Linked DNA regions of Homo sapiens: region 2 is linked to region 1. Evidence: fine-mapped expression QTL. A gene starts in region 1. The other region holds a variant in brackets. All regions are shown on one strand. Distances are between the middles of the regions.

Evidence for each region. PIP is the estimated chance that this variant, and not a neighbour inherited with it, causes the effect.
Region 2: its variant is fine-mapped to the expression of LINC02762 in whole blood (TOPMed, PIP 0.98).

Annotation. Positions count from the first base shown.
Region 1 is chr11:112,265,784-112,274,958 of GRCh38, reverse strand. It overlaps LINC02762 (long intergenic non-protein coding RNA 2762), which reads right to left and starts at 4,210. Exons shown (of 4, transcript NR_126004.1): 1 at 4,176-4,210. It also overlaps the pseudogene ST13P10.
Region 2 is chr11:112,511,096-112,520,270 of GRCh38, reverse strand. The region is part of intron 2 of LINC02763 (long intergenic non-protein coding RNA 2763); the gene reads right to left. Among named protein-coding and RNA genes, the nearest start is that of LINC02763, 33 kb to the right of the region's middle. The variant C/T (reference allele first, on the strand shown) is at 4,209.

The sequences.
Region 1 (9,175 bases):
GTTATGGCTCCTAAATCTGGAGTGGGGTCCAGGAAAATGCATTTTAAATAAGCATCTTGTGGGGCCTTCAGCATCTGCATCACTGTCACAGGTTGCTTATTAAAAATGCATGTTCCTGGCTGGGTGTGGTGGCTCATGCCTGTAATCCCAGAACTTTGGGAGGCCAAGGCAGGTGGGTCAGTTAAGCCCAGGAGTTCAAGACCAGCCTGGGCAACATGATGAAATCCCATCTCTACAAAAAATACAAAAACTGGCCAGGTGTGGTGGTGCATGCCTATAGTCCCAGCTATAGGGAGGTTGAGGCAGGAGGATCACCTGAATCCGGGGAGGTCGAGGATGCAGTGAGCTGTGATTGCATCACCGCACTCCATCCTGAGCCATAGAGTGTAACCTTATCTCAAAAAAAAAAAAATGCATGTTCCTGGACCCCCCCACCTCTGACCTACAGATCCAGAACCTGTACGCTCCAGCCCAGCCCTAATAGGCTAGTGGCTTCCCTTTGGACCCTTGGGACCAGCCAGTCTAGTCACACCACAACCATTGTCCTCAGAGAAAGCCCGTCTCACCATTTGTCCTCCACAGAACATTCCTCCAACCTCCTCCTCCCGTTCTCACTATTCTCTCCATCGCAAACCTTCCCTCTCTGCCACTTAAAACTTCCACTGCTGAGTGAGCTCCCCTACATCTTCCACTCATTCCTTTCCCTTATGAGCTTAGATGAAACCACCAGGGGAAAAATGGCAGACATGAGCTGCAATGATGGCCACCACCCCAACTCAGGGGAGCTCAGTCATCTTAGGCAGCAGGCAGCTGCAGTGATAATGGCTGCCCCCACCCCCCTGGAAACTCTTAGCAGAGTTAACAGAACAGAGCTGTTAACAAAGCTGTGCAGAGTTAACTTAACAGAGCTGTGCAGATTCTCAGCAGCCACTTGACTGGGGTCTTAGGCAGTCTCCAGTCAAGTGGCTGCTGAGAATCTGCACAGCTCTGTGCTTGGGACCCAAGGCCCTGGTAGTGTAGCTCAAAAGTGGGATCTCCTGATCTGTGGGTTGCGCAGATCCGTGGAAAAAGTACGGTTTTCTAGCAGGGTAGCATGATCACTAACCACCTCCCTTGGCTTGGGGTGGGAGCTGCCCTTTCCCCGTGTGGCTCCCAGGTGGGCCGTCGCACCACCCGGCTTTTCTTCACTCTTCATGGGTCACATCAACTGCTTAGTCAGTCCCAGTGAGAGAACCTGGATACCCTGGTTGCTGGTGCAGGATTCACTTGCCATTTTGGTTCCTCCCAGTGGGAGCCTCTGACCACAGATGTTTCTAGTTGGCCATCTTGGCCTCTCCCCCCAGTACTAATATTTTTATATGAAGAAAATAGTATCTTTGAGGTTTTAAAGGCAACTGTGAAATAAAATTGTTTCACCTCCGGGTGAAAAAAATAAAAATAATAAACAAATAAAAATAAAACTCTGTTGCCTACAGATAGAATTCAAAATGCTTAGCATGACCTATAAGACCTAGCATGACTTGGCCCCTATTTACTTGCCAGCAACAGCATCTGTCACTCTTTTTCTTGAACATTACCTTTTCATTGTTCCCTGCTCACATCACACTGTTTTGTAATTCCACACTTCTCTCTTCCAGGAACATTCACCCCAACCTACCCCTATCCTTCAAAACAGTTCATCCAGGATGGCTGCAGTGACTCACACCTGTAATCTCAGTGCTTTGGGAGGCTGAGGCAGGAGGATTGCTTGAGGCCAGAAGTTTAAGACTGCAGTGAACTATGATTCACGCCACTGAACTCCAGAGAGAGAGAGAGAGAAGAAAGAAAGAAAGAGAGAGAGAGAGGGGGGAAGGAAGGAAGGAAGGAAAGAAAGGAAGGAAGGAAGGAAGGAAGGAAGGAAGGAAGGAAGGAAGGAAGAAGGAAAGAAAGAAAGAAAGAAAGAAAGAAAGAAAGAAAGAAAGAAAGAAAGAAAGAAAGAGAAAGAAAACCAGCTCATCCACCATTTACCCAAAAAGCATTCTTTCCCTTCTTTTGTACTCCTAAGGCTTACCTCTATCTTAGCATTTACGCATTATTTTGAAATTATGTTTATGAACCTGCCTCTTAACACTAACCAAAAGCTATTCAAAAAGAGGGATAAGCCAGGCATGGTGGCTCATTCTGTAATTCCTTTGGGAGGCCCAGGTAGGAGGATTACTTGAGGCCAAGAGTTCAAGATCAGCCTGGGCAACATAGCAAGACTCCATCTCTACAAAAAAATAAAAGTTTTAAAAAGGAGAAATCTTAACTGGTCTTTATGCCCCTGCCCTAAAGCTTACCACAATGCCTGCCACATATTGGACCCTCAAAACAAATTATTGATTAATTTTCACAATGGGACTACAAGGCAGGCATTACAAATGAAAAAAACTAAGTCCCAGAAAGCCAGTTACATTCCAGGGGATGGGAGGGCAGCAACTTGAAACCAACTCTACCGCTAAGGCCTAGGCTCTCTCAAGTACAACCTGGAAAACATGAGTGAGCAAGGAGATGGAGGTGAGAATGAGGTGTCAGGGCACCCACCCAGGACATGATGCGTGAGGAATGGAGGGATATGAAGGTGGACAAGATTCTCAAGGGTGGAAGAATATGGTCATGAGGCCTTGGCATTGTGGCTTCTAAGCAGAGCCCTGATACGCTAAACTGCCTGGCAATATCAGGCCAGGCAGTTTGGTCTGACATTGCCAGTTTAGCTGCCCAGGCATGTCTGCTAGCTAAATCTAAATGCTGGGCCTGAGGTCAACGTCCCCACAAATACCCACAACTCTGCTGCACAACCATATTCAGAGTCCTGCACTTACTCAGCCTCTGCTTGCTGAGCAAGCAGATACTACCTCTCTTGAGCACAAGCCTCCAGGAAGTTCCTAATGTAGATCAAGGTGGGAATATCCATGGAATATCCAAATTATATTAGAAGGCCAGGCAGGGTGGCTCACATCTGTGATCCCAGCATTTTGGGAGGCTAAGGCAGGCGGATCACTTGGGACCAGGAGTTTGAGACCAGCCTGGGCAACAGGAAAAAACCCTCTACAAAAAAAAAAAAAAAAAATTAGCCAGGCATGGTGGCATTCACCTGTAGTCCTGGCTACTCAGGAGGCTGAGGCAAGCGGATCAATTGAGCTCGGAGATTGAGGTTGCAGTGAGCCATGATGGCACCACTGCACTCTAGGCTGGGTAACAGAAGGAGACCCTCAAAACAAACAAGCATACAAACTAACAAACAAAGTATATTAGAAGATAAATAAATATGGACTTGAGTGGACAAGAGCATCTTTGCGCCTCAGCCTCTCCTGAGAGGTGCCTCTTCTCCCACCCACCTTCCAGGGGCCTTCCCCTACAAACCTAAACATAGAAGGCAGCCAATGAAAGGGACCAAGAGGCAGATTCCTGAGATAAGCCAAGGAAAGCCCAGGCCCAGGAGCCCACAGAATGAAAAGAATATTCTCAGACAGTAGCAAAACAGGAAGACTGTTCGACACAGCTGAATGCATGCATCAGAACATGGCCGTCCCCTGCACACCCTTCTCTGGAGCTCTTAGGCTAGAAGATGATTTCTTCTGGACAAGGAAGACACAGGACATGGGGTGAAAATAATTCCAGCAAAAGAAAGCTAAATACACCATCCCGTGTTTACAAAACACAGGAAAAGTAGCGAGGGTATAGAGAACCAAGGATAAAGGCAGGATGCCCTTTTCTGGTAAACTTCATGCCAAACAAAGGTGAAGGGCCAGGATTAGCTCATTAGCGGGGAACTCAGGGCAAGAACACCCTGCCCTCTGTTCTGTCCTCACCTGAATCTCTGGGACGAAGCCAAGTTGTCACCTCCCTAAATGGTTCTAGAAACAGAAGAGTTCATGCCCTGCCTGGGGAAGGGACTTCTAGGTCTTCAGCTCTAATCATATGTTTTATGCACAGGTGGAGACATTCAGATCCATGGCCCTCACCCTGTTTCTGCTCTGCAGACTGAGATAAGAGCCTTACGTTTACAAAGTTTCACAAGAAACTGGAATTTGTTGCCCTTCTTTTCCACCTCCCTTCAGCCAGCTCCACTTTTCCTCGGATGCCATGGAGACTCGTAACCAGCTGGACAGCATACATCCCAGAGCTGGAGGGGAGCACAAGCGACCCTGACTCACCTGCCGTTGCTCAGAAGGGAGAGAAACCTGTGAAACTCGGAAATTCCCTCTGGGGGAGGTGTGGCCAGCTCCCAGGCACCACCTCCGCGGAATCTCTCCAATCATAACAAGAAGAAGGAAAACAAGCAGTTATCCAGTGCTTTCTCTATGCCAGCCATCACGCTCCACAAGTATTATGTCGTTAAAAGTTCCCAACAGCCTTATGAGATGGGCACTGTCATTCTCCCCACTTTGTGGATAAGGAAATAAAGCAGTCGCATAAATTGGTCTGGGGTCACCCTTGGTTTCCCATTGGAGTGTAGGCTTCCTGAGGTTAGAAGTTGTTTTTATGGGCTGGGTGCAGTGGCTCACGCCTGTAATCCCAGCACTTTGGGAGGCTGAGGCGGGCGGATCACCTGAGGTCAGGAGTTTGAGATGAGCCTGGCCAACATGGTGAAAACCCGTCTCTACTAAAAATACAAAAATTAGCCCGGTGTGGTGGCAGGTGCCTATAATCCCACCTACTCGGGAGGCTGAGGCAGGAGAATCGCTTGAACCCAGGAGGCGGAGGTTGCAGTGAGCTGAGATTGTGCCATTGCACTGCAGCCTGGGTGACAGAGTGAGACTCCCTCTCAAAAAAAAAAAAAAGAAGTTGTTTATATGACGCTTTGGGAGTGATATTAAGAACATAAATGCTGACTGACCAACTGAAAGATTCGAAGCACCGTGGGTATTTAATAAATGTTATTATTGATTGCTATTAAAAATCATTAATATGATTTTATATGTCTCAGGAAGCAGTACTACAAATAATTCTGAAGTTACTCTATCAATAACAAATTATGTAAGTGACAAAATTGCATTTGTTCACAAGGCTAGAAATAGAGCCTAATTGTTTTCAGGAATGTGGACATTATTTGTTTTTGTTGATAAGAAAGATTAGCTGCTATGGTATAAGTAACGATATTTAGTTGCTACTACATAGTATCAAATCAGTGCAAAAGGAAAAATCACAGATCACGAGATATATGGCAGAAGTTAGAAGAATGTAAGGGAATTAAATGAATTAAAGGCTGTTTCTGTGACTCAATTAATTAAATGATATTGAAAAGAGAAGGTAGAAAGCTGGATTCAGGGCTGATTTTCAGGAGCCTAGTTGTAAATAATTAGACCACCCCTTGGATGTGTACACGACATCAATACCTCATAGCCTCCACAGGAGCAGGGTTCATCTCCTCCTCCCAGTACCTGCAACAACAGAACCAACACGGAGATGCCAGCACGGAAATTCCCACGATCACAAACCCCACCTTTCTCTTATCATTCTGCTCTACCTTTCTTTTCCCTATATCCTTAACTTCTTACATTTTAAATCTTGTTTTCCTGTAAGCTGCTTTAAGTCCTACCTGAATAAGGCAGGGTATCAGAAAATCAATACACTCTTCAGGAACTTAACCGAAGGGAATTTCCTGTGAGAGCACATGGCCTTGACTTTGCCCCTGGAAAGGTGTCCTCGTCACATCCTTGTCAGACCACCACAGGAACCCACAGTTCATCCTGCCTGTTCCAATTCATGTCCCACTCATTAAACCGTCCTGGTTTTTTTGTTTTGTTTTGTCTTATTTTGTTTGCTGCTGAATCCTCTGGTTAAACAGCAGGAGCAATGCAGCCAAATGTCTTGATAAAATGTCACACCTTTCCATGAAATTTCTAAGTGTAGCTATGCAGGACAGAGGAAGAGCCACTTGTTTCCAGTTACTGACCTAGGTGGGCTTAGTTCTCTTCAGGTTCCTGCAGTGGGTTTCCTCTCAAGCAGAGAATTCTTTCCTCTCAAAGGAAGAAGCCACACTAGCCATGTAAAGAGAGTGTCCAAACCTTCCTCTTCCGCAGCTGGAAATACCTTCCCAGTTCCTCTTCTGTTTGGGGACTGGGAAGCTCTGAGTCCCAACTTCTCTTGTCCAGTTTCACTTTCTCACCCACCAACCCCTGCTCTCACTCTACCACTAAGTGCCCTCAACACTGATCTCTCCCTAAAAGTGACTGAAATAAATGTCCAATTTTGGGGGGATGACTGATTCTAATGTTGGGAAGAGAAGCTTAAAAGATCTGACCTCCTACTCAGTGAGAAAGGGGTCCTTGAACACCCTTCTTGAGACGTAACCTCCCTACTCCTACTTAAATGCTAGCAATTCCTGCTTTTTGCCACAGTAATGCAAGGCATTTCTGGAAGTTACGATGCAAACTAAATCTTTTTAGATCTCTGGTTTCAAAACTTTGGATTTTAGGCACCTAGATAGGTGCTACGTTTTCATTTTGTTAAATAAGGACATTTAAAAAATAAATAGGTGCCCCCTTCTGCGCAGTCACACTGAGCCAGTGCCTAGGCCTGGAACCGGGCCACGGCCCCTCAGCTTCGTCCACCGCCTCCCGACCATGGACCCCCACAAAGTGAATGCACTTCGGGCTTTTGTGAAAATGTGTAAGCAGGATCTGAGCGTTCTGCACACCAAGGAAATGCACTTCCTGAGGGAGTGGGTGGAGAGCATGGGGGGTAAACTATCACCTGCTACTCAGAAAGTTAAATCAGAAGAAAATACCAAGGAAGAAAAACCTGATAGTAAGAAGGTGGAGGAAGACTTAAAGGCAGACGAACCATCAAGTGAGGAAAGTAATCTATTAATTGATAATGAAGATGTGATTGAACCAGACCCTGATGCCCCTCAAGAAATGGGAGATGAAAATGCAGAGATAACAGAGGAGATGATGGATCAGGCAAATCATAAGAAAGTGGCTGCTATTGAAGCCCTAAATGATGGTGAACTGCAGAAAGCCATTGACTTATTCACAGATGCCATCAAGCTGAATCCTCAGTTGGCCATTTTGTATGCCAAGAGGGCCAGTGTCTTCATCAAATTACAGAAGCCAAATGCTGCCATCCGAGACTGTGACAGAGCCGTTGAAATTTATTTCAGCTCAGCCTTACAAGTGGCGAGGTAAAGCACACAGACTTCTAGGCCACTGGGAAGGAGCAGCCCATGATCTTGCCCTTGCCTGTAAATTGGATTATGATGAAGATGCTAGTGCAATGCTGAAAGAAGTTCAGCCTAGGGCACAGACATTGCGGAACATCAGAGAAAGTATGAGCAAAAACGTGAAGAGCGAGAGATCAAAGAAAGAATAGAAAGAGTTAAGAAGGCTCGAGAAGAGCAAGAGAGAGCCCAGAGGGAGGAAGAAGCCAGACGACAGTCAGTAGCTCAGTATGGCTCTTTTCCAGATGGACTTCCTGGGGGAATGCTTGGAATGAGAGGGGGCATGCCTGGGATGGCCGGAATAACTGGACTCAATGAAATTCTTAGTGATCCAGAGGTTCTTGCAGCCGTGCAGGATCCCAAAGTTATGGTGGCCTCTTCCAGGATGTGGCTCAAAACCCAGCAAATATGTCACAATACCAGGGCAACCCAAAGGTTATGAATCTTATCAGTAAATTGTCAGCCAAATTTGGAGGTCAAGAGTAATGTCCTTCTGATAAAGACCGTGCTGAAGGAAAAGCAACCTAGATCACCTTATGGATGTTGCAATAATACAAACCAGCGTACCTCAGGGGTGCTTTGAAGATAATCCATATCCCTCTCCCCCAAATGCAGCTGAAGCATTTACCATGGTTTGCCATTAGGGTATTCATTCAGATAATATTTTCCTACTAGGAATTACAAACTTTAAACCCTTTTTAAACCTTAAAAATATTTAAAACAAATTTAAAGGGACGGTTAATTCTTATATTTTTCTTTACTAATCATTTTGGATTTTTTCTTTAAATTATTGGGCAGGGAAGATACTTATGTATGGAAGATTACTGCTCTAATTTGAGCAAAATAGAAGTTTATTAGTGCGAGGCAAACATAAAAAAATAAGTAAATAAATAGGTGAAGGAGGGGAAAATCTACCATCTATAATCTACAATGACTATAGTTTCATAAAAGAAAGAACAACAAAACATCAGAAAGCTATAACATCAAAATAAAAGGCAGGCTTTAAACCAAATCAACATTTCTTTCTTTATAAAAACTGTCATAATTTTGCCCTCATCTCTGTCATTCCATGAAAACAGGTAAACAGTTGATCAAGATCATTGCCAGCCTGGAGTTTGGCAATAATTGCTATAAAGCAGGGGTTATTTTCCCAGAAGGCCATGTGACCTGGAGCAGCTCAACCAGCCAACCCCAGTCCACTGACCACGGTAGGCCAACGAGGCAACACAAGTAAAGCACAGTGCAGATCCAGCTGTGCTCTCAACATGCAATTTTGGATTAAACGAAGACACAAATATGATCAACAAAAAGTCTTGAGCAAAGATAGAGCAACTAACTATTGCTGTGATAAACTTCTCTCCAAGTTCTATCAAATGTAAGTAGATGAGGCACGTGTCCCACACGTACAACAAAATATACACACGGCATATTAAAATTAACATGTGCTGTATCTGGAATATGTCTGAATCTGAAATGCTAAGCAGAGCACACATGTATTCCCTAGATAGTAAGCTGTCCAGTGGAGAGAATCCCCAGCTGGTGGGAAGGAGGCCGGGATCTGGCCCTGACTTTGTCACTAAGTAGTTCTTAAGCCTGGGGCAAGTTGTTTAATTTTTCTGTGCTCAGTTTTCTCAGACATAATAAGGGAGTTAGATTAAAATTATCTCTTAGGGCCAGTCCTGCTTGAAAATTCTTAATGTAATACATAGCAGCGTGTTCCCCCTCTCTGAGAATTTGTAAGTCCTCGGGGAATGAGAAGAATGGTATGCATCTTCTCAAAAGCTGACCACGGGCTATCCCTAAAGCATGGGGACTCTCACTTTGGGCTATTCAAAAGCATAACACCCACAATGCTGAACCAAAGAGCCAGAGGCACAACCCAATTAGCTCATAAATCAACATGTGTGGACTTGAACATCCATTGTGGGTCAACAAATGAGAGTAACTTCTCCAGCTACCCCCAGCTCCCTGGACGCCCTTGTCCCTCGAGTT
Region 2 (9,175 bases), 250 kb before region 1:
ATTTTAGATTCAGGAACACATGTGCAGGTTTGTTACATGGGTTTATTGCATGATGCTGGGATTTGGGGGACAAGTGAGTCCCATCACCCAGGTAGTATGCATAGTACTCAATAGGTAGTTTTTCAGCCCCTGGAGCCCTCTTACTTTTCCCTCTTGTCCTAGTCCGTTTTCACACTGCCATGAGGAGCTTTCCTGAGACTGGGTAATTTACAAAGGAAAGAGGTTTAATTGACTCTCAGCTGCATGGCTGGGGAGGCTTCAGGGAACTTCTAATCATGGCAGAAGAGGAAGCAGGCACCTTCTTCACCAGGTGGCAGGAAAGAGAAGAGCAGGGGAAACCACTTCTATAACCATCAGATCTTGTGAAAACTCACTCAGGGGCCGGGCGCGGTGGCTCATGCCTGTAATTCCAACACTTTGGGAGGCCAAGGGGGTTGGATCACCTGAGGTCAGGAGTTCAAGACCAGCCTGGCCAACAAGGTAAAACCCGCCCCCCTACTAAAAATACAAATGTTAACCCAGGCGTGGTAGCAGGCACCTGTAGTCCCAGCTACTTGGGAGAATGAGACAGGAGAATTGCTTGAACCTGGGAGGCAGAGGCTGCAGTGAGCCGAGATCGTGCCACTGCACTCCAGCCTGGGTAACAGAGTGAGACTCCATCTCAAGACAAACAAACAAAAAACCATACAAACAAAAAAACCTCACTCATTACAAGAACAGCATGGGGGAAACCGCCCCCATAATCCAATCACCTGCCTCCCTTCACGCGTTTGGATTACAGGTCCCTCCTTCAACAGGTGGGGATTGCCATTCAAGATGTGACTTGGGTGGGGACACCAAGCCAAATCATATCACCCCTCTAATAGTCCCCAGTGTCTATTGTTCCCATTTTTATTTCTTTGTTTGGTTTTTTTTAGATGGAGTTTCACTCTTGTCGTCCAGGCTGGAGTGCAATGGTGTGACCTTGGCTCACTGCAACCTCCGCCTCCCGGGTTCAAGCAATTCTCCTGCCTCAGCCTCCCGAGTAGCTGGGATTACAGGCAGCCACCACCACGCCAAGTTAATTTTTGTATTTTTAGTAGAGACGGGGTTTCACCATGTTGGCCAGGCTGGTCTTGAACTCCTGACCTCAGGTGATTCGCCTGCCTGGGCCTCCCAAAGTGCTGGAATTACAGGCATGAGCCACCGCACCCGGCCCCCATTTTTATTTCTATGTGTACCCAATCTTTAGCTCCTGCTTGTAAGTGAGAACATCTGGTATTTATTTTTCTGTTCCTGCATTAATTCACTTTGGATTTTGCCACCAGCTCCATTCATGTTGCTGCAAAGGATATGATTACATTCTTTGTTATGGCTGCATAGTATTCCATGTATATATACTGCATTTTCTTTATCCAGTCCACCATTGATGGGTTGATTCCATGTCTTTGCTATTGTGAACAGTGCTGCAATGAACATGCTCGTGTAGGTGTTTTTTGTTAGAATGATTTATTTTGCTTTGGGTATATACCCACTAATAACATTTCTGGGCCGAATGGTAGTTCTCTTTTAAGTTCTTTGAGGAATCACCAAATCACTTTCCACAGGATCTGAACTAATTTATATTCCCACCAGCAGTGTATAAGCATTCCCTTTTATCCACAGCCTCACCAGCATCTGTTGTTTTTTGTCTTTTTAATAATAGCATTCTGACTAGTGTGAGATGGTATCTCATTGTGGTTTTGATTTGCATTTCTCTGATGATTAGTGATGCTGAGCATTTTTTTTTCATGTTTGTTGGCTGCTTGCATGTCTTCTTTTGAGAGGTGTCTATCCATATTCTTTGCTCACTTTTTAATGGGTTTTTTTTTTTTTTTTTGGCATGTTGAGTTCCTTGTAGATTCTTAATGTTAGACCTTTGTTGATGCATAGTTTGCAAATATTTTCTCCCATTCTGTGGGTTGCCTGTTTGCTGATAGTTTCTTTTGCTGTGCAGATGCTCTTTAGCTAACTTAGGTTCCACTTTTCAATTGCTTTTGAAGACTTAGTCATAAATTCTTTGCCAAGGCTAATGTCCAAAATGATATTCCCTAGGATTTTTATACTTTGAGGTCTGACATTTAATTTTTTAATTTTGTATTTATTTTTTATTCATTTTTGAGATGGAGCCTTATCTCCCAGGCTGGAATGCAATGGCATGATCTTGGCTCACTGCAACCTCCATCTCCCAGGTCCAAGCAATTCTCCTGCCTCAGCCTCCTGAGTAGCTGGGATTACAGCTCCATGCCACCACACACAGCTAATTTTTGTGTTTTTAGTAGTGACGGGGTTTCACCATGTTGGCCAGGCTGGTCTCGAACTCCTGACCCTCAGGTGATCCACCCATCTCAGCCTCCCGAAGTGCTGGGATTACAAGCACACACCATCATGCCCAGCTAAGTTTTGTATTTTTAGTAGAGATGGAGTTTCACCATGTTGACCAGGCTGGTCTTGAACTCCTGACCTCAGGTGATCCACCCACCTCGGCCTCCTAAAGTGCTGGGATTACAGGCCTGAGCCACTGTGCCCGGCCCTGAGGTCTTAAATTTAAATCTTTAATTCATCTTGAGTGAACTTTTGTATATAAAGAAAGGAAGGTGTCCAGTTTCATTCTTCTGCATAGGGCTAGCTAGTTGTCCCAACACCATTTATTAAATAGGGAGTCTTTTTTCCATTGCTTATTTTTGTTGACTTTGTCAAAGATCAGATGTTTCTAGGTGTACAGCTTTATTTGAGTTCTCTATTCTGTTTCATTGGTCTATGTGTCTGTTTTCATACCAGTACTTTGCTTTTTTGTTTATTATAAAGTACTTCACATATATTAATCCACGTAATCCTCACAATACTTTGTGCTAGTCACTATTATTTCCATTTTGTAGGTGAAAAAAACTGAGGCACAGAGAGGTTAAGTGACTTGCCCAAGGTTACTCACTTATAACTGTTAGAGCCTATACTCAAACCCAGACACATTGGCTCCAGAGTATACCCTAAAACAAATGGACCTCACTAATGTGATGAACCCTTAATAGCCCTTAAAACTTGGATAGCAATGTTTCATTGAAACTTAAGCTCAACCAGTTAATTTTAAGAGAAAAGAAAACATAGTTCAATTGGAATGAGCATTTTCTAAAGTGATAAAGTTGATGGAAAGCCATAAATTTAAATCACCTCTAATCCAACTGGTATTTTATTTGTGCTTCTGTCTGTAAGGACCTGTGTCCTGCTTCTACAGGAGAACCCACTATTCTGCTAGGAGCTGCGAAGCAGCTCCTTAGAGAACCTCAACATCCTGTTTCTCAGATGACTTCACAGTAAACATCATTGGTTGGTTTTGACTCTGAGTTTTTGTTTCCAATAAGCTTTCTTTATCATCTCATGGGAATGGAAGGTGAAGGGAAAAGAAGAACCAGAGTAAACTAACCACACACACAACACGTACACACACATATATGCACATATACAGACACACATGTGCATGCATACACAGACACACAAACACACATACACACATGCATACATGTACACACACATGCATACCTTATTTAGATGTTTATACTAACAAGGAGAGAGTTGAAGGAAAAAGTATCAAGTCTACTTATCCTTACATAAAGCCAAGAGAGACAAAGAGGCTTGCTTGGTATCTCACGGGATGGCAGAAAAAGCCAAGACTGAAAACTCCTGTCCCCATGTTCTGCAAAGAACTCCTGTCCCCAAGTGCTTCATAGAGAACGTGGTGAATCACACATTCCAGGCCTCATCCTTTGAGATTCCAATTCAGCAGTTTGGGTGGGGCCCATGCAGTTGCATTTCTGATGAGCTCCCAGATGATGCAGCTGCTGCTGGTCCACACACACCTCAATAAATAACCACTGCCCTATTCTGTCCCATTTCTCCCATCAAGGCCCACTAATTTTTTCTGGAGTGGGCTCTTTTGCCCAGCCTGGCCCAGTGGGCACAAGTGTCTGTGTTGGTTCCATTGATTGGGAAGTTCAGCTCATGGTCCTTGGTCATCCATGACCAGAACCTATTTTTAAACAGAATCCAGGAAAGGGGGCCAAATAGGCCTTCTGTTTTCACTCTTCTGCCCCACCTCCTGTCCCACCTAGCTTGAGGGTGGGGGGGGTTCTGTTTTCTAGGAGTACAAAGGAAACTGTTCTTAATTAGAACAGAACTGGAAGGACTGCCCTAAT[C/T]TGGAGCAGTTTGGTTTGGTTTTCTAGTCACCTGTTTCTCAGGTCACAGGTGCCCCTGGCCTTTGCTGATACTACATTGTCTTCCTCCTCAGGACTCCCAAGGGAACTGAGACCTGTCCTCTCTCTTTCCCAGAGACAAGCTTACCACTCACCTCAGGGCTTGCCTGATCCCTCTGTCATCTTCCTGGAGCTGGGGCTTGGGGCAACCAGAGCCATGAGACTAAAACTAGATCTGTGGGCAGGGGAGGGGGGTGGGCAGAAACATCGGGAACACAGGATGGGCAAGAGTCTGGAGGCCAGTGGTGTACACTCTCACTGCAGGGAGCACCTGGATGCTGGCTGGTTTCACGCTGCACTTTGGGGCTATGGAGGACAAATTTCCTGAAAATACTTAGCTGGGTCAAGTCAAAATCATAAGTCTTCTGCAGCCCAGATTCCCCTCTTTGAGAATATGTGCCCTCCCCATCAAAGGGAGCCAGGGCTCTCGTTTTAGCCTCATTAAGGGAAGTCTCTGATAAAACTCAGATATTGGACATTGGGAACTTCATGATCTTTTCCAGTCTTATTTATAAAGAAGATCATAGGGTACCTTCATTCGCTATTGGTACAAATGGAAATTGTTCTGTTCTCTCTGAAAGAAAACACGACGCAGCATGTGAAAGACCTTTAAGTGGGTAATTCTGCTTCTAGGAGTTTGCTCTAAGGAAATAATTGGACAAGGACTGAAAGATGAATGTACAAGGATACTCATTCCAACATTATTAATAGCAAAAAAAGTAAACATCCTAAATGCGTGAATAAAAATTGGAGTTTGGTTAAATGAACCATAGGAAATACAATCACTGAAATATTATGTGACTAATAAAAATGATGTTAGACACAAGAAAATGTTCGTAATGACAATGCCACATTATAAAATGTAGTCTATAAGACAGTACATATAAAATGATATTTTTGTAAAACCGTATGTGACTGTGTGTGTGTTCTCTGGAATGAAAAGAACACTAAAAGGGCATACAACAACACGTTAAAAGCTGTTATCTTTACATGATGAGTACACAGGAAATTTCTGAATTTTTTTCCTCCTATGCTTCTTTTATGTATTATTCAAGCATCCAAGTTTCCCACCTGGAGCATACAATGGAATAAGAAAAAAAATTATAGAATAAATAAAATCACTATGAATTGTACAATTTTAGGTGTCCTGAATGAGCCATGATAAATATTTTGGGGTACAACTTTCCTATTGTTTCTGTAATCTATTTCCATATAATAAACTTAGAAGGATAATTGTAAATACAAAGATTAATCTTTTAAAATCTTGCATGCACATGTGCAGACAGGCCAGTGTACTAGTCTAAGAAAACACATCTTCAGTACATAATATACATATTCATTGGTCTCTTCACTCCTTCCATCCCCCACTCAAGCAACAAAGATTTTTTTTTCCCCACAATGTCTCCTAGCAGCCAAACACAGGCACTGCTAATGAATATTAATTGACCTAACATCTTGTGGTGATGAAACTGCACATTTCGCTGTCTCATTTGGTTGCTAGGGAACCATGTGAGACAGCCACGGGGCTCTGGGACCCAGACCTTTTAAGTACAGGGCAGGGTTAAGCTACAAATCAAAGTACTCCACCCAATGAATTGGGTATACAAGGAACTATATGTATGTATGTGATCCTGTCAGATAAACAAGAAACAAAAACATGGCAATAGGCAGTTTGGCAGTGGGCAGGCAAGCTGGTGGAGATGGGCATAGAGTCTCAGTTACTGCAGCCCCTCCCCATGGATCTCCTGCAGTCCCCTCTCTCCAGGGACCCACTGGCACCATTGTTTCTTCCTTGCCATCCTTCAAGGTCTACAGTAGAACCGCGCAGTTGGGGCTGGAGGCAGCACGGGGGAAGGGGAAGGAGAGAATGTGGTAGTTGGATGTAATTGCCCTGAAATTGTAGGCATCATTTTCTGTCATCCCAGTGCTCATATTAGATGCAAATAAGCTGATGAGTGAACCTGGCCTACCTGCAATTTTCCTTCTGCACTTGACTTTGATCTTCTTTTCTCCTCCCTTTCCCTTCTCTTCTGTCACTCAGCAAGCAGAGAACTCATGCTCATCAGTGCTGGTCTCTGGTCTGGCCACCTTGAACCCTTGCACTAAACAAAGAGCAAATTTTCCCACCTGGGCTTCTGGAAGAAAACCCTCATGGAAACTCCTCATTCCCTATGCCTCCTGCTTCTCTTTCCTCCCCAGTCTTCTCCCTTTAAGCCCTTACTTTACACCACTTTTCCTAACCATTTCCCCCTTTCCAACTGTCTAAGCACCTTCCCTATAAAATGAAGACGTCTCTGTCCTTTGGCCCCACAGGCATACCAAAGACTTTCTCTTTCTGTTTGGCAGGCCCCCTAAAGGTGAGGGTTGAGCTCTGGTCTCAGCATCTGCAGGCTTGACTGAGAAATGGGAGGGTGAGTTCTAGTTCCTGGAAGTGAAAGGCAGTGAGGCTGGGGTGGTGGGTGCTCTCATCTGGCTTCATCTGGTTTCCCTTCAAGTACCTGAGCAAACACAACCGTGAGGATTAACTTCATGCCAAAGACTGCCTGTCCATATTTTTAGAAATTATATTTTTATTTCCACATATTCAGTCATTCATTTAACGAATATTAATTGAGCACTTACTCCTAGCCCAGAACTTCTGCTAGGCCCTATGTGGATTCAGTAACGACTCCAAACAGACACAGCCCCCAGTATGACAACATGGGGAGAGACACAGAGATGGAGCTTAAAACATTATGGAAAATCCTGAAAATAATCAAATAAATTCACAAATAAATATAAAGCCACAGCTGTGGTATAATAAGGCAAGGCATATGGAGCCATGGAAGGAGGGGGCTGCTCCCTTAATCTTAGGGGCTAGGGAAGGCTTTCCTGAGGATGGTGACCCTATTTCTTGGGGAATACTAAGCTTCACCGTTCGCCACCCTCCATGACCTCACCAACATCAAATGGTGCCTGTTTCCTCTTCTGGGTGGAGTGGAGGTTGTGGGGCTGGAAGGAAAGGAGGTTCTAGGCTCTTCTAAATGAGAAAGATAAATGTGCTCACTTGTTTTCTTGCTTTCTCTCGCCTATCTCCTTTGAATTTGAAAATGTTTGTCAACAAAGATTCTAAAGGAAACTCCATGTCCTTAAACACATAAACCACTTTCCACAGGGATGGCTCCTGGTGGCATAGGCTTCCTCATTGGCTAATGGTGTGGGTGGAAGCAGAGATGATGGGCATGAGAGTACAAGATGAGAGGATCCCAGAAGTCCAATGGCTGTACTCAGGGAAGAATAGTAGAGACATCTTGAGCAAAGGGGTGAGATCCCGGCATGAGAACATGGGGAGACACAGAGCTGGAGAAACAAAGAAGAGGCCAGAGGCTGGTATCCAATGAGGGAGACTGGGAGATACATCCCAGGGAGACATGGGGGACAGAGCAGCTGCTGCCTTCCCCAGTTTTCACTACAAGGTCTTAAGTCCAATCTAAATTTTCATCCGGGCACGGTGGCTCATGCCTGAAATTCCATCACTTTGGGAAGCCAAGGTAGGCAGATTACTTGAGGTCAGGAGTTTGAGACCAGCCTGGCCAGCATGGTGAAACTTTGTCTCTACTGAAAATACAAAAAATTAGCCAGGCATGGTGGCATACACCTATAATCCCAGCTACTTGGGAGGCTGAGGCAGGAGAATTGCTTGAACTTGGGAGGCAGAGTTTGCAGTGAGGCTAAATTGTCCCACTGCACTCTAGCCTGGATGATAGATCAATGAGATTCTGCCTCAAAAAATAATTAATTATTTCCCAAATACCTGGTGATGGAAATGTGTGAGGAGAGTTGCATCTATTTCACGGTTGGTTTGGAAAAACAGCTACCCCAATGACAGCTGGATCACCTCAGAATTGGAAGAGATCCAAAAGTCATCCAGCTCTTCACCAGTAATCTGATTCATTCCTCCAGACAGAGGTCCAGCTTTTGTTTGAGCACAAAAAAAAATGAGCTCCCCTACTCCCTAAGGCAGCAGTTCTAAAACTGAGAAAGGTTTTCCTTATACTGAGAGCAACTCTGCCCACAACATCCATTTCCTGGGTCATGGTCTTCAATTGGGAGCTACATAGATAGATTAGATTGGCTCCTCATCTAATGGGAACCCATCAGATACAGAAGGACACGTTTTGTCCTTTATCTCACTTCCTCATCCATTCATTCATTCCCTCTTCAGATGCTTACTGTGAGCCTCCTCTGTGACATACAGCAACAGAGCAGTGGCAAAACAACTGTCAAGAAAGCCAGCCTTGCCCTCAGCTGCTCAGAGAGTTTCCTGTGGTAGATGGGGAGTGTGTGGACAACTTCAACACAGAGAGGATAGGAGTCCAGAGAAGGGCCCGTCCTTTTGGGGCATTTCAGGAATCCACTAAAATGAATTTAGCAATATTTTTATGAAGATATTTTTCAACATACAAGGCTCTAGCTGGAGCCTGTTTATGTCAGGTGGTGATTCAGAGAGGACTTGGTTTTCATGTGAACAAGGGATCCTGCAGGTTGGAATGAGTAATGCCAAGTGGGTGGCCAGATTCTGCCTGCTAGATCCAGCCACCCCACACCCATCAAGTAGAAGGTAATCCAAGAGTATCTAAAAGAAACCTGAGCTACTACTTCAGGAGATTAACTCTCCAAAGATGGGCTGAGGAGAGGTAAGGAAAAATGACTCCCTGGCTCTCTAGCCAAGTCAAGGAGAAAGATAACATCTCCTCAGTCTACACACCTGAATTCCCTGGCCTCTCAGGGCCTCTGATTCTTACAACAGAAACACTTCCACTAGGCTGTAAGCAGGACATAGTAGCTGGGAATTCTTCTATGCTAGGAACTCTCGGGGCTTTGAATTGGATATCCCTCAGGTTTATCTCAGGAATTTGGGCCATAAGATT